Homo sapiens: one gene and its partners. The protein of the gene in region 1 purifies or fractionates together with the protein of each later gene. This does not show direct contact. Each region holds a gene or a part of one and is shown in the gene's direction. Other genes may lie near its edges.

The links. Proteins that work in one complex are often made in the same cells at the same time.
Region 2: the proteins of FH (region 1) and OXCT1 fractionate together in Homo sapiens (co-fractionation; 2 studies listed by BioGRID). This does not show direct contact.
Region 3: the proteins of FH (region 1) and ATIC fractionate together in Homo sapiens (co-fractionation; 2 studies listed by BioGRID). This does not show direct contact.

What each region holds. Positions count from the first base shown.
Region 1 is NC_000001.11:241,515,954-241,525,163, reverse strand, and holds the start of FH (fumarate hydratase, mitochondrial), read left to right. Parts: upstream 1-5,408; 5' UTR 5,409-5,441; coding exon 5,442-5,573; intron 5,574-7,847; coding exon 7,848-7,982; intron 7,983-9,210. UniProt on the Homo sapiens protein: Catalyzes the reversible stereospecific interconversion of fumarate to L-malate. Experiments in other species have demonstrated that specific isoforms of this protein act in defined pathways and favor one direction over the other.
Region 2 is NC_000005.10:41,838,766-41,847,073, reverse strand, and holds part of OXCT1 (succinyl-CoA:3-ketoacid coenzyme A transferase 1, mitochondrial isoform 3 precursor), read left to right. Parts: intron 1-3,416; exon of another isoform or gene 3,417-3,493; coding exon of another isoform or gene 3,494-3,499; intron 3,500-4,292; coding exon 4,293-4,399; intron 4,400-6,562; coding exon 6,563-6,623; intron 6,624-8,308. UniProt on the Homo sapiens protein: Key enzyme for ketone body catabolism.
Region 3 is NC_000002.12:215,328,411-215,336,718, forward strand, and holds part of ATIC (bifunctional purine biosynthesis protein ATIC), read left to right. Parts: intron 1-3,971; coding exon 3,972-4,097; intron 4,098-4,939; coding exon 4,940-5,047; intron 5,048-6,508; coding exon 6,509-6,594; intron 6,595-7,624; coding exon 7,625-7,714; intron 7,715-8,308. UniProt on the Homo sapiens protein: Bifunctional enzyme that catalyzes the last two steps of purine biosynthesis.

The sequences.
Region 1 (9,210 bases):
AGCTCAGATACAATATCCTTAGCTTGATCACCTTATCTAAAAGAAGCAACCTCTCAATCATTCTCTAAACATCTTGTTTCCTTTATTGTGTTCACTATTCTAGGAAACTACCAGGCTTATTAGTTTACTTGTTTTATTAAACAAATATATATTGGTGAAAGTAAAAAGAGAGGAAAGTGAATGGATTCAAGATATAAGTTTGTGTTAAATGACCAGGATCTGCTGGTAAATTTGGCATAGTGTACGCATATGTTTGGGAAATGGAGGCAGAGTTCAGGAATCAAGGAAGACTTGCAGGTTTCTAGCTTGACTAACTGGTAGTAGTTTACTGAGCATGAAAGACTAGGGCGGGGTGCCAACTAAGATTTATCATTTAGGTATATTAAGTTTGAGATGTGAGTATTGAGTTAGATAGAGATACTAAGCACACAGTTGGAAATGTAAATCTGGAGCTTGGAGAAACCTAGGTTGGAAAAATAAGTTTGGCACCATCAGTATATCAACATAAAGATGGTACTGAAAATCATGGGAATGAAGATTTCACCTATGGAAAGATAACTGATTGAGAAGATAGTTAAGAAAGGGAATAGCATGCATAATTCAATAACATTTACATAAAAATTTAAACTGCACAAAACAACTGTACAAATTTTACAAGAATACATCTAAACAAAAGGATACAAAATAAACACATTATAATAGTTTTCTAGGGGTTTGAAAGGAGAAAGGGTATAGGAGAATAAGAAGCTAAGTGAAGCTAAGCTATGAGGACTCAAAGTCATAAGAACCATATAATGGACTTTGGGGACTCAGGGGGAAGGATGGGAGGGGGTGAAGGATGAAAAACTTAAACATTGGGTACAGTGTACACTGCTTAGGTGATGGGTGCAACAAAATCTCAGAAATCACCACTAAAAAACTTATCCATGTAGTCAAAAGCCACCTGTTTCCCCAAAACTATTGAAATCAAAAAAGAGAGTAAAAATATGAATAGAAAATAGGAATAGAAATGAAATATTTAAATAAAATAAGAATGGATCTTATACTCCATAACATGTCATAAGGTCAGTGTATTTACTCAACACTCTGTACCTGAGGTCCCACTATATTTTTAAAAATGAATTAAAGAGGAAAGACTATTTAGGAGTGAGCCCTGAGGCCCTTCCCTATTTATAAGTGAAAATCTGTCAAAGAACAGTGTGAAGGAATAGGTAGTGAAACAAAGTGGAAGTTTGGGAGAGGGAAATACGGAGACTTTGATATTTCAAAGAGCGAGAAAGAGGTATTTCCAAGGAGAAGGGGTGTCAATTGTGTCAATGCTGCTGCAAACATAGGAAACTAATTGTTCATTGTATTTGCACCTTGCAGGTCACTGGTGACCCTGGAAAGGGCAGTATGAATGGAGTGACATGTACTGAAGGCAGATTGTAATAGGATGAAGAAAGAATGAGAAGTGAAGTGAAGATGGTGATCAAATATGTCCTGGAAATGAGGAGGGAGTTGAAGTGGGATGCAAAGTCAGAGCAGCTTTTGTTTGTTTTTAACATGAGAGCTGAGACAGCAAAGTTACAGTATTAACTTATTCTATGGGTCAATTAAGAGAAATAACCAGACAAAGTAAGAAAAAGAGTGGGTAGTGTCTCTGAGGGGTAATGGAATCCAGCACATTGAGGAATTGAAGTTTTTCTGGAGAATGGAGAGAGAGGTTGGTTAACTTTCTGAGTTGGTAATTTTAGTGTTTTGCAAAGTTTCTGTACGTGCACTTAGTCTTAGGAATAAAAAAGTTCTGCAAGACATCCAACCTAAACAGTCATCACCCTTGCTACCTCTCCGCCACTTATCCTTGCACAGAGGCATCCCTTCCAGTTCCTGGGTATATACTTCCACATCTCTAAAGATTACCTCTTGGTTTTTATTTCTGTCTGTCCAGTTTATGGTTTTAGGTATTAGATCATGACTTCTCACTACTGAAGACGAAGATTAATGTTTTTTTTTTCACCGTGTCTGAATCTCTCCAAACTTCTACATTCTTTCCATCTCCCCATCCTTTCAGTATAGTTACATCAACATTTCAGTTAGATCAATATTCAACGTTTGATTTATTATAACTATGGCCATTCAAATTTGATAATGATTATTTTCCCTTTTCTGCAAAATACAACTATCTTTATTTGTCAGTTTAATAACTGTCATGCTTTTTCCCTTTGGTTACTTTTCTAAGACTTATAAATGTAACCCTCAAACTCTCCCCCAATCAGCTAAATTCCTTCTCAGTATATTCAAGGCATTAGCAATTTTATCTTTTTGAGTAAATCTATTCCAGAGGCTGTGACCTGCTTCCATCTGAGATGGTTGCTCTCTAAGGTAAGTGCACAGCTGTCATAGCCTCCTCCAGGCAATATGCCACATCTGTCTCTTGTGTCGAAGACCCTATTTTCTAAGTCCATAATTTCCTCTTCCTTTGTTTACTCCTAGTTACGGTGGAGCACTTACTTGAGGCGTTTTCTTGAAAAGTGTAGATAAGAAGTAAATTTTTTGACATCTTGATCATGTGAAAACATTTTAATTCTCTTCACACACTTGATTTCTCTGGGTATAGAATATAAAGTTGGAAATAATTTTCCGTTAACAATTTGAAGACATCATTCAACTGCTGTCTGGCTTCCGATATTGTTGTTGTGAAGTCTAAGGATTTCTAATCCTTTGCTTATTTATTTTTCTCTCTGAAAGATTCCAGTCTCTTCTCTTTGCCCTTGGTATTCTAACATTTCTTGTTGACATAACTCATTCTGGCTAGTTCATATCTGCTAGTTCTACAATATATTTTTCTGAATTTATTTTTTTAAGGTTTATTCCATTTTTTCCTAATGTTTCCCCTACATTATTCACATGTTGGACATACTGAACTGTTTCTCTAATTTTATTTACTTCTTTTATTTTCCTTCTCTTTGAATATTTGCTCTACTTTCTGGGAGACTTTTATGGGTGTATCTTGCAAATTTTCTGTTAAGCTTCCTCTAGGAAACCCACTGGTAATCTCCCAGGCTGGGAGGTATCCTAAATTAGAATTTGCAAAAGTCTTTAGTTTGAATAAGGAGAACATTTTGATTGATACAATTTGAACCTCGCAATCAATTTTGTCAGCCAGGTGTTGAGATTTAGAACACAGGCAAGAGAAAACCATTGCACTTTTCCCTTGTCCCTCAGCAGGACACCAATCACATCCCCTACCTTAAACAGAAAGCAAAGTAAAACAAACAAGAACAAACCAGGCAAGCATCAACAAGAAGAAAGCAGGTCAATATTATTATCAGACAAGTCCAAAGTTAAAAAAAAAAAACCCAAACTCTAAGCAAAGTAAAAACATTATTTCAAATAGATAACATAAGTCATTCTAAAATGAAGATATCTAGCCTTTATTAAAGGCTTTATGTACGTTTTATTACGAATTAATAAAAATAAATTAGCTAAGTTAATATTTCCTAAATTTTAGTCATTTATATAGCATCTTCATATTATACTGAATATTTTACTTCAAATAAAATGAATAATTAAAAATGGAACTTCATATTACTACTGCAGATAGAAAATCAGTTTCACTAATAAATCGAAGTAAAACACACAAATAAATATGTGGATGTTCCTGGGCATCAATTTTTCTCTTCTATGTACAGGAATAATAATAGGACCTATCTCATAGGGTTGTTTTTGAGTGTTCCAAGAATTAATACATATAAAGTGCTTTGAAAAATTCTAGAACATAATATGTGTCATAGGTAATTTTTAAAAGGGATTAAAATAACCTATTTATAAAAAGGCTATTAATTTGGGTTTTGAAAAGTTAAACTGTATGGTAGAAATAAGAGACATGCTCGAAACAAAAATGAAACAAAAAATAAAATAAAATGAGAAATATACAGCAGGCAAATAATAGCCAATATGAAATTGGTAGAGAAATATCAATATTAAAAAAAGTTTAAAAGGACAAGCAACAATAACAATAAAGAGGGGCACCACACAATGAAGAAAGAGATGATCTATGAAGAAATGATAAACATATGTTCATTAAATAATTTTGTGTAATAGCAAAGAAAAATGTTCTTTATTAAGAAACTGGATAAATAAAATATTTCATATTCATGTGATCCAATATGATTAATTTTAAAAGATCATGGCTATATCTTAAAAGCATAGAGTTCAATTATGCAACAGTAAAACTTTAAAGTAAAATATTAAAACCATTGTTTGTATATTAGTGTATGAAGCAAAAAATACACAGAACTGAAAGGATGCATCAAAATAATGATATACACAATAATGATACCTGCTGGGAAGGAGGAGAACAAAAACAAAACGTCATTCCATTATTAGCAATGTTTTAAAGAATTTGCATTCAGTTTTCTAGTGTGTTTTGATTGTAGTTCAACTATTACAATCTCATTTGAATTTTTATATTTTAAATATGTGTCAAATTTATAAGTCACAAAATAACATAATGTTACCAAAAGGTTTGGCAAGTTTGTAAGTTTGACTCATAAATTTGGCTTTGCAGGTTCTGGACTTTTGATTTTAAGAACATCCGATCGCTCTCTCTTTACTGTCATCTGGTTCCAAGCAATAGAAAAGAGAAAAGATAAAACTGTGGTTCAGATGCAATTTTATATCAATTCCTGCTTTTCTGTAATCAACTATTATATTAAAACAATATGCCTTTAATTTGAAAATGTATAAATTAGCTATGCAAAAAACTGGGAGAACGATATACAAATAATAAAAATTCCGAGGTTCCCTATAATTGTGTACGTCTTCCACAATACATTAAAAAAAAAAAAAGAGTTCTGAGGGTATAGGCTAAGAAGAGAAAGGAAACGGTAGCGATCTCAAAATGATAAGTTAAAAGAAATAAGTAAGTAGCTTATTTTTCAGTTGTGGGATTATGAATAATTACTATTTCATTATCTACACTTTGCTGCACTTCCCAAAATTTCTACACAGAAGATACAATCTGGAAGAAATGAAGAAAGATTTCAGTAGTAAGAACGTGTAATGAGTGATTACATGATAAATAAAACAATAAATATTTCTTTCTAGGATATTTCACCAACCAAACACGACCTGATTCACCAACTAATACTCCCGCCTTCTAACAGCCACACGTAAAAATCAGACCGGCTCCAAGAATAACCTGAGCCTCCTTTCCCATAATTCCCTTCTTTCTAGTTTCCCATGAATCCGAAGGCCTTACACCCCACACTACTACTAGAAAGTTAACCCGCCCCCTCATTCTTTACTGGTCATTCACGATTGGTCCTGCCCCACCTGTCGGTGTGAGGCTGTTGATTGGATAAGAGCGGAGGCCGGTGGGCGGAACGGTTTCTGACAACCGGCGTGGAGGCGTGGCCACAGCCGCCCAGAAATTCTACCCAAGCTCCCTCAGCACCATGTACCGAGCACTTCGGCTCCTCGCGCGCTCGCGTCCCCTCGTGCGGGCTCCAGCCGCAGCCTTAGCTTCGGCTCCCGGCTTGGGTGGCGCGGCCGTGCCCTCGTTTTGGCCTCCGAACGCGGCTCGAATGGTGAGCGCAGGCCGCCATCCCCCGGCCTCCCCGCAGTGACCTTCAGCCCTCCTGCCTGCCGGCCTGGGCGCCCGCGACTTGGCGGGAGAGATTCCCCGGGCGTCCGGGCCGCGCCAGACTCTGGGCTTAGCGCCCGTGCCGGCGTGGCGGGCCTCCCGGCCTCGGGACGCCTCTTCCGGCGCAGGGATGGAGCCGCAGCCCGGGAGAGCGCTTGGGGAGGGACGGGGGCTGTCAGAGAGGGTCCTACTGGGCCCGCTCCCGGCGCCTCCTCGGAGCCGTCCGTGGCGGGCCGAGGCCGGGGCGTTTTGAGGTAACTTCGCTGCTGCTGGCGCGCAGGCCCCCAGCCCCGGGGCGCTGCCCTCAAGGACAGTGCCGGCGTGGGCGGAGGGTGCTGGGAGAGGGGCAGCTCCCGCACCGTCCTGCCCCATAGCTGGGCCTTGCTGGCCGGACACTGGCCGCCTGTGCATCTAGTGGTTTCTGAACTGTGGTTTGTTTCGCCAAGGGGCACTGCACTGCTTTCAGGCCCTCCAGGTGGGGTAGAAGGTTCTTCGAAGATTTTACTTCCTTTGAAATTGCATGCTCAGTTTGTTAGGCTGACTATGGTTTCCCCCGTAATTGTTGTAAAACTCTTCAATTCCGAATACCGCGGGCATAGTGTTCTGAAGCATGTTTGAGCAGATTGGCTAGGAGCTGAATCGGTACTTTTTATTCAGAAAGCCAGCTAAGAACTTAAAGATCCAAGTTCAGGTTATGACATGCTTACGTAAGTCATTTTGCTCTTTAGAGTGTCATCTTTAGGAATGCAGGCTTTTAAAAAGCTTTAAATACATATGTATATTGTTAGGAAACGTTTGAGAAATGATAGTTGAAGAGTTACAGTTCTGCACTGGTGTAGCATGAGGTTTGCAATCTAAGAGATGTGATTTCAAATCCGTATGCAAAGTTGAAATACTTACAGCTACTCAGCAAAACTGCACATGTGAAAATACCATGTAGCGAGTGCTCATTAAATAAGTGCCCCATCTAGGGTATTTCAAAGGGCCAGTACTTTTTCTGGACTCTAAACTTCAAGATAATTTGATTGGGTCACTATACCTACGATATACAACTATACTACAGAATCAGAGATGTTTTGTATTCCTCGAACTCCCTGCTCGAATAATTTTAGGGCATTTTAAAACCTTTACATATTTTTAAATTTATTTATTGTTTATTTAGTGTTTTGTAAAGGGAAGCAGACTGGAGAACTTCTGAATCTATCCTGTTGATGCAAATGTCAAAAAATAGCAGCACTACTTTGCTCTTAGAATTGTAATGTTAGCTAAAATCAGATGGAGGTAGTTTTTGTTTTTTCTAGTTCTGGTACTTTTTGCCCTCTAACCATTCTCAGGTCCAAAATCTCTGTTGGTTTTGTTAAAAGTTCTTCCTGTTGCTAATGTTGAGAATTTCACATAACCCTTGATGCCCTAAGGTACCTTTTATTTAAAAGAACACATACAAATTCATTCAATAGAAAGATACTGTTTATTGAGTGCCTTCCACTTACCAGGCCCTGTAAATAAGACAGTCCCTATGGGGATAGGGTTTTACAGGCAGTGTTTTATTCTTGTCTTTAGTGGAGATTAAATAAGCAAAGCAGTTAAATAAGCAAATAAATCACACATGAATAATTAGTGTGATCATTGATTATTAAAAATGCATTAAAAAGTGCATTGAGAATGAGAATATTTAACAGGCAGACCAACTGTGATACTGACTTGGTAGCATGATGGCATATATATAGTGTTTATATATGTAAATAATGTTTATACATTTCTTATATAAATGAATATACATATGTAATATATGTGAATAATGTTTATATATAAATAATGTTTATAAATTTCAAATAATCATTCTTAGACCGTTTTCAAAAGTTCCCAGTAAAATAAGCATTAAACTAAGTACATTGAATTGGCCAAATCTTGACCAGTAATAAGCATACTCTTGAAATGGAAAAGATTACTATTTGTATTTCAAAGTCTTTATGTTTATCACCAGCATAGTATATTAGTTCTACAGTCTGTCTTTAAAGCCTGAATTAATAAGTTTGTGTGACAAAGAGCTCTCAAGGAAAGACCTGAAAGTGAGGAAGAGAATGAGAATCCAAATAGTATTTTTTTGTCTTTGTGATACTTATTCAGGTTTCTTTCTCTTTAACAGCTGATAAGATGCGATTACTTTTGATCCTGGGTTTCTTTTCAACTTGTAATAGTGTTGTATTCTTGTCTTTAGGCAAGCCAAAATTCCTTCCGGATAGAATATGATACCTTTGGTGAACTAAAGGTGCCAAATGATAAGTATTATGGCGCCCAGACCGTGAGATCTACGATGAACTTTAAGATTGGAGGTGTGACAGAACGCATGCCAGTAAGTGGCATTTGTGGAAATGTTGGCTATTTTGGATGAAGTAGGCTGTATTCATGAGTCACTTTACTTTATAAATATTTTTCAGAGTTAAAATGTAAAGTTATTAGAAAAGATGGCTTCGTGAGTAATAAGAGGTTCTCTTTCACTAAAATGTTAAAGAACTTTTTGAAGTTTTAGCATGCTATTATTTTGAGCCATCGCTTTGAATATTTTGGATTTTTTAAAATTTAAGGCCGGGCACGGTGGCTTATGCCTGTAATCCCAGAACTTTGGGAGGCCAAGGTGGGCAGATCACGAGGTCAAGAGATCGAGACCATCCTGGCCAACATGGTGAAACTCTGTCTCTACTAAAAATACAAAAATTAGCCGGGCACGGTGGCGCGCGCCTGTAGTCCCAATTACTCTGGAGGCTGAGACAGGAGAATTGCTTGAACCCGGGAGGCGGAGGTTGCAGTGAGCTGAGATCGCACCACTGCACTCCAGCCTGGCGACAGAGTGAGACTCCGTCTCAAAAAAAAAAAAATTAATTTAATTTTAAGTTCCGGGATACACATGCAGGATATGCAGTTTTGTTGCATAGGTAAATGTGTGCCATGGTGGTTTGCTGCACCTCTCAACCCATCACCTAGATATTAAAACCCGGCATTAGCTATTTTTTCTGCTGCTCCCCCTCCGCCCACAGGCCCCTGTGTGCTTTGTTCCCCTCCTTGTGTCCATATGTTCTCATTGTTCAGCTCCCACTTACAAGTGAGAACATGCGGGTTTGGTTTTCTGTTCCTCTGTTAGTATGCTGAGGGTCACAGCTTCTAGCTCCATCCATATCTCTGCAAAGGACATGATCTCATTCTTTTTTATGGTTGCATAATATTCCATGGTGGATATATACAACTTTTTCTTTATCCTTTATTGATGGACATTTGGGTTGATTTCATGTCTTTGCTATTGTGAATAGTTATTTTGGATTTTTATTTGGCAGAACTAAATGATTGTCTTTTCACTCTTGCTGGGTATTTACAGATTTTTACTAGGGTTCTACAGTTTGTAAATATTTTTATTTCAATACTCATTCTTTTTTCCCCCACTAATTTAAAACTGAGATTTTTTAAAATTACACTTTGTATTTTGGTTTCAGTTTCCTAAAAAGTGTATAGTACACAAACACATCAAAGTATTACTCTTAACCATGTCTGACATATAATAGATAATATATAAGTATTTATTCAATTCC
Region 2 (8,308 bases), on another chromosome or scaffold:
GTCTATTTGATTCTTCTCTCTTTTTTTCTTTATTAGTCTTGCTAGCGGTCTATCAGTTTTGTTGATCCTTTCAAAAACAAATTTACAAGAAAAAAACAACCCCATCAAAAAGTGGGCGAAGGACATGAACAGACACTTCTCAAAAGAAGACATTTATGCAGCCAAAAAACATGAAAAAATGCTCACCATCACTGGCCATCAGAGAAATGCAAATCAAAACCACAATGAGATACCATCTCACACCAGTTAGAATGGCAATCATTAAAAAGTCAGGAAACAACAAGTGCTGGAGAGGATGTGGAGAAATAGGAATACTTTTACACTGTTGGTGGGACTATAAACTAGTTCAACCCTTGTGGAAGTCAGTGTGGCGATTCCTCAGGGATCTAGAACTAGAAATACCATTTGACCCAGCCATCCCATTACTGGGTATCTACCCAAAGGACTATAAATCATGCTGCTTTAAAGACACATGCACACGTATGTTTATTGCAGCATTATTCACAATAGCAAAGACTTGGAACCAACCCAAATGTCCAACAATGATAGACTGGATTAAGAAAATGTGGCACATATACACCATGGAATACTATGCAGCCATAAAAAATGATGAGTTCATGTCCTTTGTAGGGACATGGATGAAATTGGAAATCATCATTCTCAGTAAACTATCGCAAGAACAAAAAACCAAACACTGCATATTCTCACTCATAGGTGGGAATTGAACAATGAGAACACATGGACACAGGAAGGGGAACATCACACTCTGGGGACTGTTGTGGGGTGGGGGGAGGGGGGAGGGATAGCATTGGGAGATATCCCTAATGCTAGATGACGAGTTAGTGGGTGCAGCACACCAGCATGGCACATGTATACATATGTAACTAACCTGCACATTGTGCACATGTACCCTAAAACTTAAAGTATAATAATAATAAATAAATAAATACATACATACATACATAAATAAATAAAGAGAAGACTTCTGGATTGGAAGGCAGAAAATGAGTGCAATTAGGGAGGGAATGCAGGGGGATTTAAACTGAATATTAATGTTCTATTTCTTAAGCTGGTGTTATAAAAATGTATAAGTACTGCATATATTTTTAAAATGCTACATAAGCATATTTTGTACATTTTTATATGATAAATTTTACATTAAAATATTTTAAGATAAAAAATGTGTTTTTTATGTTTGATCTTTTTCCTTTACTGTCTAAATAAGTTTAAAAGGCTTCTTGACAAAGTAAAAGACAGGAGCCTAATTGTTAAAATGAACTGTAGTAGTATCTCATAAAGTTCCCGGAAAACTTGGGATAAATACTTTGATAGCTTGCTAGAAGTTGAAAAATTAATTCACCTCGTGAAAATATGAGACTAAAATATTTCTTAGGTTCATTTCTGCCTGGAATCAGGTGCCTCAAACTCGTAGTTTTTTAATTTTGTCTGAATTCCCTAGGAATATGACAGATAATTTATTTCTTAATTCTTAGTACTTTTTTTTTTTACTTAAAGCAGGAAAAAGTGAGTTCATTTCTAAATTAGTGTTATTTATTGAGGTCCTACTCTTTGCCAAACCCTGGTCTAAGCACTGTGGTAAAATGATCTAGATCAAGTCCTCCTGCTAGTGGAGGAACTGACAATGAATGAATAAATGCATAATGTCTATAGTGGAAGTACTGTGAAGACAAATCAAGTAGATTAACAGCAAAGAGAATTAATTATCACTGGCCAGGCAGCTGATATTCCAGACTGGTGGCCAGGGAGAGCTTCTTTGGGGAGGTGACACTTGGTAGAGACCTGAATAAGGTAGGAGAACGAGGCAAGTGGAGATAAGAGGGTTTGTGCTCTGTTCAGAAGGAAGAGTAAGTACAAGGTGCTGAGGCAGCTACAGGCTTGCCGTGTTTGGGGAACAGGAGGGTGGTGAGGCTGGAACAGCACATGAGGCAGAGAGTGATAAGGATGGAGATTGAAGAGAGGCAGGAGTCAAATTCATGCAAAGTTTGAATTTTACGGAACGCAGTGGGAAGCCTATGGAGTTTTGAATAAGGGTGAGAGTGATGTAATTTGAGTTGTCTTTTGTAACTATCACTGTGGCTGCTGGGGTGGTGGTTCTTTTTTTTTTTTTTTTGCTAGGAAGCCAAGAGCAGAAGCAGCGAGAGAGGGTTTAGGAGGCTGTTGTGTTAATTTAGGAGGGAATGGAAGGTGGCTAGACCAAGGTGGTAACAGTGGAGTTTGAGAGAAGTGGTTGAAATTGGTGTTATGTTCATGGTAGAGCCAACAGGATTTACTGGTAGATAGGTAAGGGGTGTAAGAGGAGTCAAGCATACTGTGTAAGATGAATGAAGCACAGGCCTTATCAAAGAGCTCTGTTTGGAACATGGTGCATTGGAGACGTTCATTAGACTCCAAGAGGAGGTGCTTAGTGAACGTCATATCAGGGGAGAGTCTAGAGCCAGGATAGAGACTTTGGAGGCATCAGCATATAGTATTTAAATCTGTATACTAGATGAGTGTCTAGGGGCTGAGTGCAGAGCACCTCGTTGACATTTAGAAATTGGGAAGAGAAGGAGCAGCAAAGAGAAATGGGAAAGAGTGATTAGTAAGTAAAGAAGAAACCCAGGGGCATCTGGCAATTTGAAAGAGAAGGGAAATTTTAAAAAGAAGGGAATGATCAACTGAGTGTGAAGAGGTTGGTAATACAGGGCCTGGAATTGAATCATTGGATTTGCAAAAACAGAGGTCATTGACAACTTTAAGAATTATTCCTTTTTGGAATAGAGGGGATGAAAATCTCATTAGATTCAAGAAAGAACCAAAAAGTGAGGAAGTGGTGACTACGAAATGTAGAATTCTTTCAAGTGAGTATAATAGCTAGTTTGACAAAACCAACTCCTTCCCCATTTTTAAATTTCAGTAAAACTAACACTCAGCAACAGCTGGTATGTAGACACATCAGAAAATTATGTAACTAGAATATAAAAGAAGCCTATTTATTGACTTTGCCTTGCATTTGCATATATTTACCCCAGTTTTCTAGATCTGTATGTAAAACACTCAACTATCATTGTTGGTATTTACAGTGATTTTTGAAATACATAAGCCGTTCCAAAATAACTTTGTATATTGATATGTGGCTCAGAAATATCTTTCATATAATTTATCTTAGTTCCTATAGTAAGATCCTCATTCATCAGTTATTCCCTAAGTGCATTAATCTTTTTTCTAGCAGGCAACTTGGTTAATGTCTTTAAAGTAGCCTTTATTTAAGAAAGGTTTTGTTTCAAACCATAGTTGAAATAAATGTACCAAAATTTTCTATTTTCTATAGCAGCTTTTTGTAAAACGCACTTAGTCTGTTTTTCCACTAGGGGGTGCGGTAGGGATGAGAATGGAGTTCTACATTCACATGGCTCCATTTTGTGCAGTGATGGAGTGTGGCAATGGATGCTTGTTTTAATTCCCGGAAATAAACCGTCAAGAATAAAAGAACATGATGGCAAGACAGTTTTGCTTTATGTTCTTCCCTCCAAAATTGGTAGTATAATTAAAAGGCAATAAACATAAATAAAAATCAATAGCATTCCCTAGATCAGTAATGTCAGAAGAGTAGATAGGAGCAAATGTAACATTCACAGTAGCAAGAGAAACCACTAAGTACCTATAAATAAACCTAAGAAAAAAAATAAAGCTTTTATGGAGAAAATAATAAAACTATTGAAGGAGGTCGAAGAAAACCTCAGTAAATGGAGACATATACTATGCTCATGGGTGGGAAGATAGGGCTTGTTGGTTTTCTCCAAATTTACTGATTCTGTGAATCCCATTTAAAATCTCAACAGGTGATATAGGTTATTGAGGATAGCTGAATGATAGATTTTTGTAACTATTTTATGTAGGAAAACAATACATAGACCATTTTATGCAAACTGTTTTTTCAGGGGAGAGGGAAAGAAGGACTATTTTTCACATTCAATATACAACCTGTACATACAAATAGTAAAATGAAAATAGTCTATCCCTCAGGCCATAGAACTTTCAGTTCCTCAAATGCACAAATTTTCTTTTGTCACTGGACCTTTGCTTGTCTGTTTCCTTAGCTCCCCTTAGACCACTTTGACTAAGTCCTGCTTGCCTAACACTGCTTATCTTTGAAGTCTCTGGGATGCTTTTCCCTCTGAGAAATTTTCCCTCAGTAGGCTTGTATCCTTATTATCTACCTCTATCAGAGTGCCTCTATCACAATCAAGACCTATGCAAATACCTGATGATGCCTTCTCCCTCTTCTGCAGGTGAGGGAGTTCAATGGTCAGCACTTTATTTTGGAGGAAGCAATTACAGGGGATTTTGCTTTGGTGAAAGCCTGGAAGGCGGACCGAGCAGGAAACGTGATTTTCAGGTATTGTGATAGTTTTAAAAACACTCGTGCATATCAGCAACTCTAAAAATGGACATCAGAGTGAATTTGGAATTTAAAAATGTATTTTCGTAATGGCCCAAAATCATACATGCCCATGTGTATTGCACATATATAGGTGTGTGCAGGGCTGCTGGTATGTCCACTTGTGGGAGTCTGTTTAGACTGGTCGATATCTATGTTGCACTGCTTGTTAAATATTTGGATCTATATGCCCTTTTATATAGGCACATGCAGTTGTTTTTCTCCTTGTGTATTTTAGTTGCCAAGACCAGTTACATGCTTAGAAAATGTGACATCATACAATTTTATTTAATTGATATTGTAATTTACATGTATTGTCTTAAAATGTCAAAGCTAATTTGATACTCTGGAAAGATACTGCTAATAATCATTGGGGTCAGTCCTTCAGTCCTTTTGGTGTCTTCTAGGAAATGCTTACAAAGGTTCTATCTGAAAAATTGATTAACCTTTATAATACTGAATTTTCAATCCTCTCAGCCACAGACTTTATAGATTTTAAAATCTTTTGGTTATTCTAAGCATACTAAGTATTTATATCTTGGATTTATAGATTTATATAGTTGTTTTTTGAGGAATATGAAACCTTTGAGTGTACACTTAAGAGTTTTCCAAACTGATCTTGAAGACTTTACCTATCAGATTACAGAAATCATTGTTTTTGCTTATTTATCATTTGCTGCTTTCGATTAACAATTTTTAAATCTTTAGCAAATGCAGCTTTGGTGCAATTACAGTTAAGTTCTCAGTGATACTCTCATATCACTTTTTATTTCTGAAGGACTTATGTGATATTAATGCTCTTTGATTTCTTTAATTTAGCCAGTTTTTTAAAGTACAACTAATTTTGGCAATAACAGGAGTAATTTTACATCATCTTTACCTTATTTGACACGTTTGTGTAATATTTACACGTTTAGTTGCTTTTTAAAAAAGATTAACAAAATTGTATACTACCAAACAGAAAGGAATTATTGAAAATATTCCCATGTTTATTCTGCGCTGCAGTGCCTGGCTCTGGTATTTGAAGGCTGCACAAGGGCTATTCTGGGCACTGACTTTATGCTGGTGGTTAATGAGTTCGGGTGTGAAATGAAAGCTTGCATCACCAATGGTCAAGTGACCTTAGGATTAACTTCATATTTAGTGGGACAGCTGGAACAGAAGTCTGTCTAGGTTATTCAAGTGGGGGACTTGGGACTCCTTTGCCTCTGACCATTCTGCCCTTGGAGCTTTTGATGCCTGGATGTCTGGTGGGATCTAACCCAGCAACTTGTGAAAGTTCACGAGGGCTCCTTTCTCAAGGATGCTCCTATTCCTGTACTCATTCTTCAATCTGAGCAAAAGAAATATTGGTGGCTCAAAAGAGCTAGTAAAACATAGCTGTGACTTACTTCCTTTTACCAAAGAAATTCTGCCATCAACGTATATTCCCAGAGACAAAAAATATGTTTTAATTTTTACCATTAGGGGAACTGTATTGAGGAACATCAGAGTGCAAAACCATCGGCAAAATTGGCACCTGCTAGAAATTTTTACACCTCGGGGTCTGATGTGGGTGTTATACTTCCAAAAACTTCATCAGAAAATGATTCTCCAGAATGATCTTTATAGTTGACTCACAAATTATCAATGAATGTTTCATTTAGTTTCAGCAATAGGCTTCTCTTCAATAGAGAATGTAATTACTGTACCTTCTCATGTGAAGCATTTGCTACTTTTCCTTTCTTAATATTTTAATGAAAGCAAGTGGTTGAATGAAATATTTAACTAATAGGGACAAAGCATACTTGTTAAAAGATTAAGGGAAATTAACTTCAAATAAGATAGATTTATTAATATTCCTTTTTTTGTTGTAGCTATATGTTGAATGTGAAAAATAGTTCCTCTTTCCCTCAATCCTGTTCAAAACAAAACTATATACATTGAATAAAGTAGTTATGGTTTTTAAAATTTATGAGATATTTATGAAACTTTATTAATGGAAAATATGATACACTCTTTTTGGAAAGATTCTTAGATTCTTAGTTCATAGAAATTCTAATCTATAAAACCTTAAAGGTGACAGAGATGCTTATTTTTCGTCTTTTCCCCCCCACTTTCTTATCTCCTCCACCCCTGTAGGAAAAGTGCAAGGAATTTCAACTTGCCAATGTGCAAAGCTGCAGAAACCACAGTGGTAGAGGTAAGAGGTTATTTTTGAATTCTTGGTGTTAATTATTTAACTTGATGTTAAGTATTAATTCAAGAAAAAGTACCACAGTTCATTTGTTTTATGGATAACAATGACAGCTTTTTTTTTTGTTTTGGAAATGGATCCATTCTATCTAAATATATAATAGTTAAAATTTTGCTGTAACTTCAGCTTTCTGGTTAGATAGGGTCTCACTAGAATGCTCTCTTTGGGAATCAAGCAATGGGACCAGCTTATAAAAGTCTTTTGATCCTTAAATGAAATAGATCTCCTTGAATGAAATCCCAAGATGAATTTATGTATGTGGAATCCCTGGAAAACAGTAAATGTGTCAGAAGAAGTTCATGATCTTACTGTGATAGATTTTGTGATTTCTTTAAGGGAAGAGCATTGCACATATAACTACTTTGATGTGGTTCAATTCAGAGCAAATTCAGGCACTGACTGTCCTTTGGGTATCTCAGTGTTTGGAAGGGGCTTGGATAATTCTGCAGCCTTTCCAGGCTTAAGGACCCAGGGCAGAAACAGGGGCTTATACCAAAACCGTGCCATTTTGGTTGTAACATATTGAACCTCAAAGAAGACTTCAAATGGTTCTTAACTTGAGGCTTTGAGGATCAACTTGGAACCCAATTTTCGTGGGAGTTTGAGGTAGTTTTTCCTTGGGAGGGCTTTATAGGACCCCTATTGGGATCTGGAATTGAAAATACATAGGTTCCTGATTGATTTTTCTCATGATGGCAGGTGTTGTATGTGGTATCTTTTGATTCATTTTTACAAGGCCAAGATAATGTTTCATGAAGTCAGTACAGTGTATTTTGAAACAATCAAATGTTAGAGTTTTGTTCCTTTCTTGGAAAATGAAGTGTGCTATTTTTAAATTGCTGAAGTATATGTTACTTTCAACCGAGGCATGGTGGTTTCTTTTGCAATGGCTTTACATTTTCTGAATTTAAAATGGATAGTGTGGCTTACACTTTCTGTGTAACCTGTCTTTAATTTATTCATCCATCTTAATGACCTGTCCGTGGCACACAACTATAGCATTACTGAAAAAAGGCCTACAGCATAGCTTAAAATAATCAATAGTTTTACACCCTGTTGACTTCCTGTATTTCTGTAAAACTGTCAGAAACCAGTATTTCTTTCCAGAGTACAGAGGGGCGTTATGCATTATCCTGGGTGAAGTTCTCTTTAAAATTTTTCCTGTTATAATCTGGTTCTTTTCAGTTCATCTCATTTCTTACAAGAGCAGAAAATAACCTTGTGTTGAAGAATCATTGCAGGTATTAGGAAAGAGAGGCTCTCTTTTGGCCTAAGGAGAGAAAATCCTTTAACTAAGCCTGCAAATGTAATAAAGGCTTCCCTCCTGTGTCCCGGAACAGACATCTCTGATGGATCACAGAATGCTTTCCTGGTAGGCCGAGACACACATTAGGGTCTCTTTCAATACAGTAATGTGCGCAACCACTCCTAATTCACTACACTCTCCAGTATGGTAGCCACTAGCCACATGTGACTTATAAAATTAAAATTATGGCACAGTGGCTCAGGCCTAATTTATCGCAGCACTTTGGAAGGCTGAGGCAGGTGGATCGCTTGAGCCTAGATGTTCAAGGGCAACATGGTGAAACCCTGTGTCTACAAAAAATTAGCCAGACGTGGTGGCATGTGCC
Region 3 (8,308 bases), on another chromosome or scaffold:
CCTATCTGCCCCCTCAGCAGCTCTCCCTGCGCCTGCTGCTAGCCCCTCCGCCCTGTGCCTCCAAGTGGGCCCAGCTCTTTCCACTCCAGCGCCTCTGGCTCCTTGTCCCCTTCACCCAGAATTCTTCCCTCTGCCCTTCACCGTCCTGGTTTCTTGTTATTCAGGCCTCACCTCCTCAGAGAAGCCTTCCTTGACCGCTTAGACCAAAGTAGCAGCCCATCATGCTTTCATCCCATCACCCTGTTTTGCTGCATGTGTTTCTATTCAATCTGTTCAAATTGTCTTCCCCCATTAGGATGGCAGCTTCCTTTTTTTTTTTTTTTTGAGATAGAGTTTCACTCTTTTCGCCCAGGCTGGAGTGCAGTGGTGCGATCTTGGCTCGCTGCAAACTCCACCTCCCGGGTTGAAGTGATTCTCCTGCCTCGGCCTCTCAAGTAGCTGGGACTACAGGCGCCTGCCACCACACCTGGCTAATTTTGTATTTTTAGTAGAGATAGGGTTTCACCACGTTGGCCAGGCTGGTTTTGAACTCCTGACCTCAGGTGATCTGCCTGCCTCGGCCTCCCAAAGTGCTGGGATTACAGGCATGAGCCACAGCGCCCAGCCAGGATGTCAGCTTTTGAGAGCAGAAGCTGCATCTGTTTTTGTTTGTCGCTGAATCCCCAGGGCTTAGAAGACTGCTTGGCACATTCCCTAAATGTTTACTGAATGAATAATTAGCAACCTGACATTTTGCACAAATTTTTCCTTGTAGGACTTCTTGAAACTGATTTGTCTGCTGTTATATCTGACCTATTTCCTGCTTATAGTTTATATTCTCCATTAAGATTCTGAGACAAAAAAATCCCCATGTACTGTCAGTTCTTATACTTTTCATTTTCCAAAGCATTTTCATTGGACTATATAAAAGCCTTCATTGTTCCTTAGACTGTGTGTGCGTTTCTTTTGAAGTTTAAAGTATTATTTGTGGTAAACATGGCAGAGGCGGCCCTGGACACGTAAATAAGCGTTTCTTGTGCGAGATTCCCAGGATTTCTCCCCAACATGGGCTTATTTCCACAATAGAAAAGGCACTTTGCCTTTTCATGTGGTTTGAGTATTTGGCAGTGATGTTATTACAGAGTGTATGGTTGCGATTGTATCTAAAACAAAATTGAAGCAAGAACAAAGATGGGGTTGTGTGAGTGTGTGTATGTGTCTGAGATTTTAATGACTGGTTTGCTTATGATTGGAAAGAAGAAAATTCCTATTTATTTCAGCTATTTACTAGATTAAGCAACTTTCAGCATTTCTCTGGCACTTTCTATTTCAGTTATTAATGTCTTTGAAAATTTGATATTTGAAGGGGAACCGGATACTCTTTTTTTTTTGAGGCAGAGTCTTGCTCTGTCGCCCAGGCTGGAGTGCAGTGGCATGATCTCGGCTCACCACAACCTCCGCCTCCCAGGTTCAAGTGATCTCCTGCCTCAGCCTCCTGAGTAGTTGGGATTACAGGCATGTACCACCAGGCCCAGCTAATTTTTGTATTTTTAGTAAAGACAGAGTTTCACCATATTGGCCAGACCAGTCTGAAACTCCCAACCTCAGGTGATCCACCCACCTTGGCCTCCCAAAGTGTTGGGGATTACAGGCATGAGCCACCGCACCCATCCAGATACGCTTAACTATGAGATGTTTCAGAAACCAAAAGTTTTCTCCCACTTATCAACCTTAGCCTAAACCATCTATGAGGAGTGGGAGGGAGATGGGGGAGTTGTACATATGGTGTTTTGTTTTATTATGCCTGTTGTATGCCTTAGGGGATATTTTACTTCTATTGTTTACTATTTATTGCCTAGTTTGTTTTCTTCTGTGCCTCTCGCATAAATTTCATGAGGACAGTGATTTTATTTGACTTGATTTTTGGTTGGGGGAATTATTTTTTCAAGTTCTTTTTAAAACGGGCTTTATTTTTTTAGAGTAGTTACAGGTTTACAGAAAAAATACACGGTGATTATAGGGAATTTCCATATACCCCGCTTCCCCGCAGTTTCTCCTGTTAACATCATGCATTAGTGTGGTGTATTTGTTACAACTGATGAACCGATTTTGATTCATTATTAACCAAGGTTCATAGTTTAACATTCATTCTTTGTGTTGTACATTCTGTGTATTTGGAAAAATGCACAGTGGCATGTCTCCCCCATTACAGTATCATGCAGAATAGTTTCAATGCCCTAAAACTCCCTTGTGCTCCTCCGCCTCATCCCTCCTTTCCCTTCTCCCCAACCCTTTGCAACCACTGTTATCTTTTTCTCTTTTCTTTTTTTTTTTTTTGGAATGGAGTCTTGCTATGTTGTCTGAGCTGGTTTTGATATCCTGGGACTCAAGCAGTCCTTCCGCCTTGGCCTCTCAAGTAGCTGGGATTACAGGCATGCACCACCATGCCCAGCTGTTTTTACTGACTCTGTACCCATTTCCAGAATGTCAGATAGTTGGGATCATACAGTATGGAGCCCTTTTAGGCACTTTCAGTTAACAACATGCATTAAGTTTCTTCCACATCTTTTTGTGGGTTGGTAGCTTATTTCTTAATGCTGAATAATATTTCACTGTGTATGAATGTACCACAGTTTATCCATGGACATATTGAAGGGCATCAAAACTTCAAGGACAGTTTTTGGTAGTTTATGAACAAAATTGCTATAATCATTTGTGTGCAAGTTTTCAACTCATTTTGATAAATACCTAATATTTTCTTTTATTGTATACTATTTATTGCCTATTTTTTATTTGCCTCCCCAGTAAGCTCCATAAGGACAGTGACTTTTTTTTAAGAGGGTTGCAGGGACGGTTTTTTTCACTGATGTATCCTGAATACCTAGAACAGTGCTTAACATCGTAGTAGGCAACTCAGTAAATATTTGGCAAGGTCTTTAAAAACTATCTTAACCCATGAAGGACATGAAATTACACATTTTTGTTTTTTGGGTTTTTTTTTTTTTTTTTTGAGACGGAGTCTCGCTCTTGTTGGCCAGGCTGGAGTGCAGTGGCGCGGTTTCGGCTCACTACAACCTCCACCTTCCAGGTTCAAGCGATTCTCCTGCCTCAGCCTCCCTAGTAGCTGGGATTACATGCGCCCGCCACCACACCCAGCTAATTTTTGTGTTTTTAGTAGAGACGGGGGTTTCACCATGTTGACCAGGCTGATCTCGAACTCCTGACCTTGTGATCCACCCACCTCGGCCTCCCAAAGTGCTGGGGTCATGGGGGTGAGCCATTGTACCCGGCTCATTTTTGTTTTTAATTAGTGCTGGCCCACCATTTCTTTCTGTGTGCTGAACTTCTTATGTTTATTCACAAGAGATACTAGCTCCTAAAAAAATCTGCCAGTGTTGAGAAACTAGGTAATGGAAAACTCTGAAGTTGCAGTCTCCTTTTAACTACAGTTCTGCTTTAGGCAGAGTCTGTTGAGTTTGCCATCAAAGAAGAAAGAAAAAACACATTATTTCTTCTCTTCTTCCACCCACAGCTGTTGCTTTAGCTTGTAATATAATTTCTTACATCGATAGGGTTTATAACTTTAATTTTGTACTGTCTCTGTGATTACCTCAATTGTTTAATCTTAGTTCTGTATTTACATGAATTCCTGACTGATCACTAGTCTTGTCATAGTTTCTCCCATCCCTAAATCTCTTATTGTGGATTTATTTCTAGACTGGCTGGTTCTGGTCCTCCAGTCGTGTGTGTGTGTGTGTGTGTGTGTGTGTGTGTGTGTGTGTGTGTTCATGTACATGTGCATTTTTTTTAAAGATGGGCTCAGGCTCAGTTGCTTTGTTCTTTATCATCAAGATTTTATGTTTGTGTGTATCTGTTTGGCTCTTAATTATACTTAAAACATTTGTTTAGTCATGTTATTTTTTTGAGAAGTGTGCATACATCTGACCTTACTGATCCTGCTTAGTAATGTGCATGTATATTTTTACATTTAGTTCTAAATGGAGCCCCTGGATTTATAAACTTGTGCGATGCTTTGAACGCCTGGCAGCTGGTGAAGGAACTCAAGGAGGCTTTAGGTATTCCAGCCGCTGCCTCTTTCAAACATGTCAGCCCAGCAGGTAAAGCTCTGTGCTCTGGAAAGCTCCAGAATTGTTCGAAAGGCATTTCTTCTTAAATTTTTTTGAATATTAACAAGTTCTAATGTGAATATAGACATGCTATGAAATCTGAAAGTCATCTGTTGATAACAGTATCAATGTAATAATATAAAATCTGATACACACACACACACAGAATTGTGTAATATTGTCAGGAAAATGAGGCAGGAATTTGTTTGTGGGGTGGAACCATAAAAGTTTAGAAAATAAAAGTGAAATGTCCTAATGCAATAGACTAAGTCTTGTGCCACATCTTTGAAAATGTAATGGAGTAAACATAAAGAAGTTCTTCTTTGGACTCTTTATCTGAAACTTCTTATAGTCGTTGTATGAGATACTTTGCTTCTGTGTTTAAATCATGAACTCCGCAATTGAGTTGTCTGTACACCACATCTTGCTGACAGTCCTCCAGCACATGATTTGTTCTCAGGTGTTTATTGGGTGTTAAAGTGATGTGAGTGGGGAAGAAATAAATGATGTGTGATATCAAAGTGATATCAAGCAGAACAGAGAGAAAGAGTGAGTCAGTAATGAAGTAAACGAGCTTCACCTACACGCTGGGTACTGTCAGGCTTCAGTGGCTCTGTGGTTTTGGAGGGCAGAGAGGAGATTTCCCTCACACTGCTCCCACAACCATATTTTTAGTGTATAATTATCTGGCTAAATAGATTTCTGTTTAATTTAGCACAGGCACTAGAAAATGTGCTGCGTAGACTGGGTGTTAAGAAAACTGTCTTGATTTAGGAGTTGACAGGTAGTAACTTTAGCTTTCTTTGTTTATGATTTTACTATTTTCTAACCAGGTGCTGCTGTTGGAATTCCACTCAGTGAAGATGAGGCCAAAGTCTGCATGGTTTATGATCTCTATAAAACCCTCACACCCATCTCAGCGGCATATGCAAGAGCAAGAGGTCAGACTCATAGGGCTTTTTGATTTGGGGGAGAAAGAAAAAGCAATATTTTATCCTAAATAGAATAAAGAGGATAGAATAAAGAAAAAATATATAGATATTCTGTATAATATATAGATGAAATTAAGGACTTCTATCTCTATGTAAATATACAGTTATTCTATATAATATAGTTTGATTAAAGTAAAATACCCTTTGTTTCATTATAGGATTTCCTATTTAATTTGTTTTATTAATATTTGAGATTGATTCTGTGAGTACCTCAAAATACATTTCTTTATAAAAGTGTATGTTAGTATTTTAGGCCGGGCGCAATGTCTCACGCCTGTAGTACCAGGACTTTGGGAGGCTGAGGCGGGCAGATCACGAGGTCAGGAGATCGAGACCATCCTGGCTAACACGGTGAAACCCCGTCTCTACTAAAAATACAAAAAATTAGCTGGGCGTGGTGGGGGGTACCTGTAGTCCCAGGTACTCAGGAGGCTGAGGCAGGAGAATGGTGTGAACCCGGCAGGTGGAACTTGCAGTGAGCCAAGATAGCGCCAGTGCACTCCAGCCTGGGTGACAGAGCGATACTCCGTCTCAAAAAAAAAAAAGTATTTGTTAGTATTTTAGTGTAATAAATGGAAACACAATTGGAATTTGGTCAATGTAATTTTGCTAATTTAGGCTATTGAATGCATTTGTTATTGTTTAATATGTGACCAAAATTGAAATTACAAAAAGCTATTCTTTTTTTTTTTTTTTTTTTTTTGAGACAGCTTCTTGCTCTGTTGCCCAGGCTGGAGTGCAGTGGCGCCATCTCAGCTCACTGCAACCTCCACCTCCTGGGTTCAAGCGATTCTCCTGCCTCAGCGTCCTGAGTAGCTGGGATTACAGGTGCGTGCCACCACACCTGGCTAATTTTTTTGTATTTTTAGTAGAGACATGGTTTCACCATGTTGGCCAGGCTGGTCTTGAGCTCCTGACCTCAAGTGATTCACCTGCCTCAGCCTCCCAGAGGGCTGGGATTACAGGCGTGATTTATGGCTCTTCTAACTTTACTACATTTGGTTAGAGTCATGTTTTATCAGAGACATTTACTTGTTGAATTTAATAACCCATGAATATCCCTTTAGTATTTCTGAAAGTTCTTGAGAAACTATTACCATAGTTTATCATCTACAGCAGTGGTCAGCAACTTCAGCTGAATCCAGCCTGCCACCCTGTTTTTGTGAATATAGTATATATAAATTGGTCCTTCACAGAAAAAGTTTTCTGAGTGTCACTCTAGAGGGTAAAATTAAAGAATACTTTCTTACTGGTTACTTCAGTTAAATGACTTATTGATCTGTTAAAATCTTATGTAAACAGTAAGATTAGCTTTAGAGTAATGAATTTTATATGACAGTGGAGAATTTTATTACTTTTTCTGTATCAGGATACTTTGTGATAAATACCTCATTTTAATTTTATTTACAGGGGCTGATAGGATGTCTTCATTTGGTGATTTTGTTGCATTGTCCGATGTTTGTGATGTACCAACTGCAAAAATTATTTCCAGAGAAGTTAGTGGACATTCATGTATCTTAATCTGTGTGTTGAATAAAGCTTTATTTGTTCATAATGTTAATTGAAACCATAACCTATAATATTTATATTTATAATATCTTTTAATTAGCTAAGTTTATCATTTAATGTTCATATTTTAAATAGAACATTAATCTTAAATTGTTAATTTTGAAATGTAGTGAATTATTGTTTCAGATGGATATTTGGCTGTTATGATGTTTTTTACTTATATATTTATTTTAAATTCTTTGTTGTCTTCATGCCAAAGTTACTGTTTCTGAAGAGCAGAAGTTGTAATTTTAGGTGGTGATGCGATATAATCCATCTTACTGCATAGTGGGTAAAAAACAGAAACTACATTAATAAACTTACCCCATCAGTTGAATACCAAACAGGTATTCCAGACAGGTGGGGGTACTGTTGGTAGTAGGAAGACAGGAAGAAAAGAGAAAAAGATTAAATAGCTCAGAAAGGGGAAAAAAATAAGCAGAGGTGAAGGCTGAAGGAGCATGTGGCTTGGCACTATTTTGTTGCTTTAGGATTCTTTCCATGGCCACTGCCATCCCTGGGTTACAGGTTACAGGAGGGCTGTGACATTTGTATCTTTCGTCATGTCAAATCTCTGATTTAATCTGGTCTTGCTGTTAAGGAAAACGCCTTGCCGGAAGAGGTCATTTAACCATGTACTAGGAGAGTCAGGACTAGAATGTGCTCTTGCTCATTCAAAACACTCCCTGAAGAAATATTTCCTCCTGAGGTACATGTGTTAAGAGCAAATCAGTCATATTTTCTTAGTTTAAACTGAAACGAACAAAAACTTGGAGAGGACAGAAAGTTAGGATCTGCTATACAGAAAGCTGTATTCTAATAGATTTCTCTTTTCAAGTATAGCGTTAGCATTGTTTGTTGGAGGCAGAAACCAGAATATGCTGCCACATTATTTAAGACTGATAATTGCTGCTAGATTTTTTTAAGAGGTGTTCTCTGATTTTTAAAAATAGAAATTAAAATTTAATATTTTTGCAGGTATCTGATGGTATAATTGCCCCAGGATATGAAGAAGAAGCCTTGACAATACTTTCCAAAAAGAAAAATGGAAACTATTGTGTCCTTCAGGTGAGTGCAATTCATGTTTGAAGCGGTAATTTGCTCTTTTATTCTGTGTCTCTTTCTCCCTTGTTTACTCTTTCCTTTATACTCATACCCTTCTAGTTTATCCTTATTATAGTTTATTTTCCCCAATCCTGCATTTAAAAAAATACTATTAACTTGGGGTTTTGAGATGAGAGTAGCTTTCTTACCCTCAATTTTAACTTTTTGCTGGTTGTGATGGCTCATGCCTATAATTTCAGCCACTTGAGAGGCTGATGTGGGAGGATGGCTTGAGGCCAAGAATTGGAGGCTGTATTGTGGTACTATGATGCCTGTGAATAACGACTGCACTCCAGCCTTGGCAGTGTAGTAAGACCATGTCTCTAAAATACTAATAATAGTAACAATATTTAATGGAAAGTCTCTCCATCCTTCTGTTACCTTTTGAAAAGATAACTATTTTAAATTTCTTGCTTATCTTTCCTGAAATAGTCTATGTATTCAGCAAATATTTGCATGTGCATTTCTTTTTCTATTTTCCTATTGACACAAGTGCACCCTGCTTCACCTTCTTGGAAGTTTGTCCTGTATCTGTGTATTTTAACTTACCTAGACAGT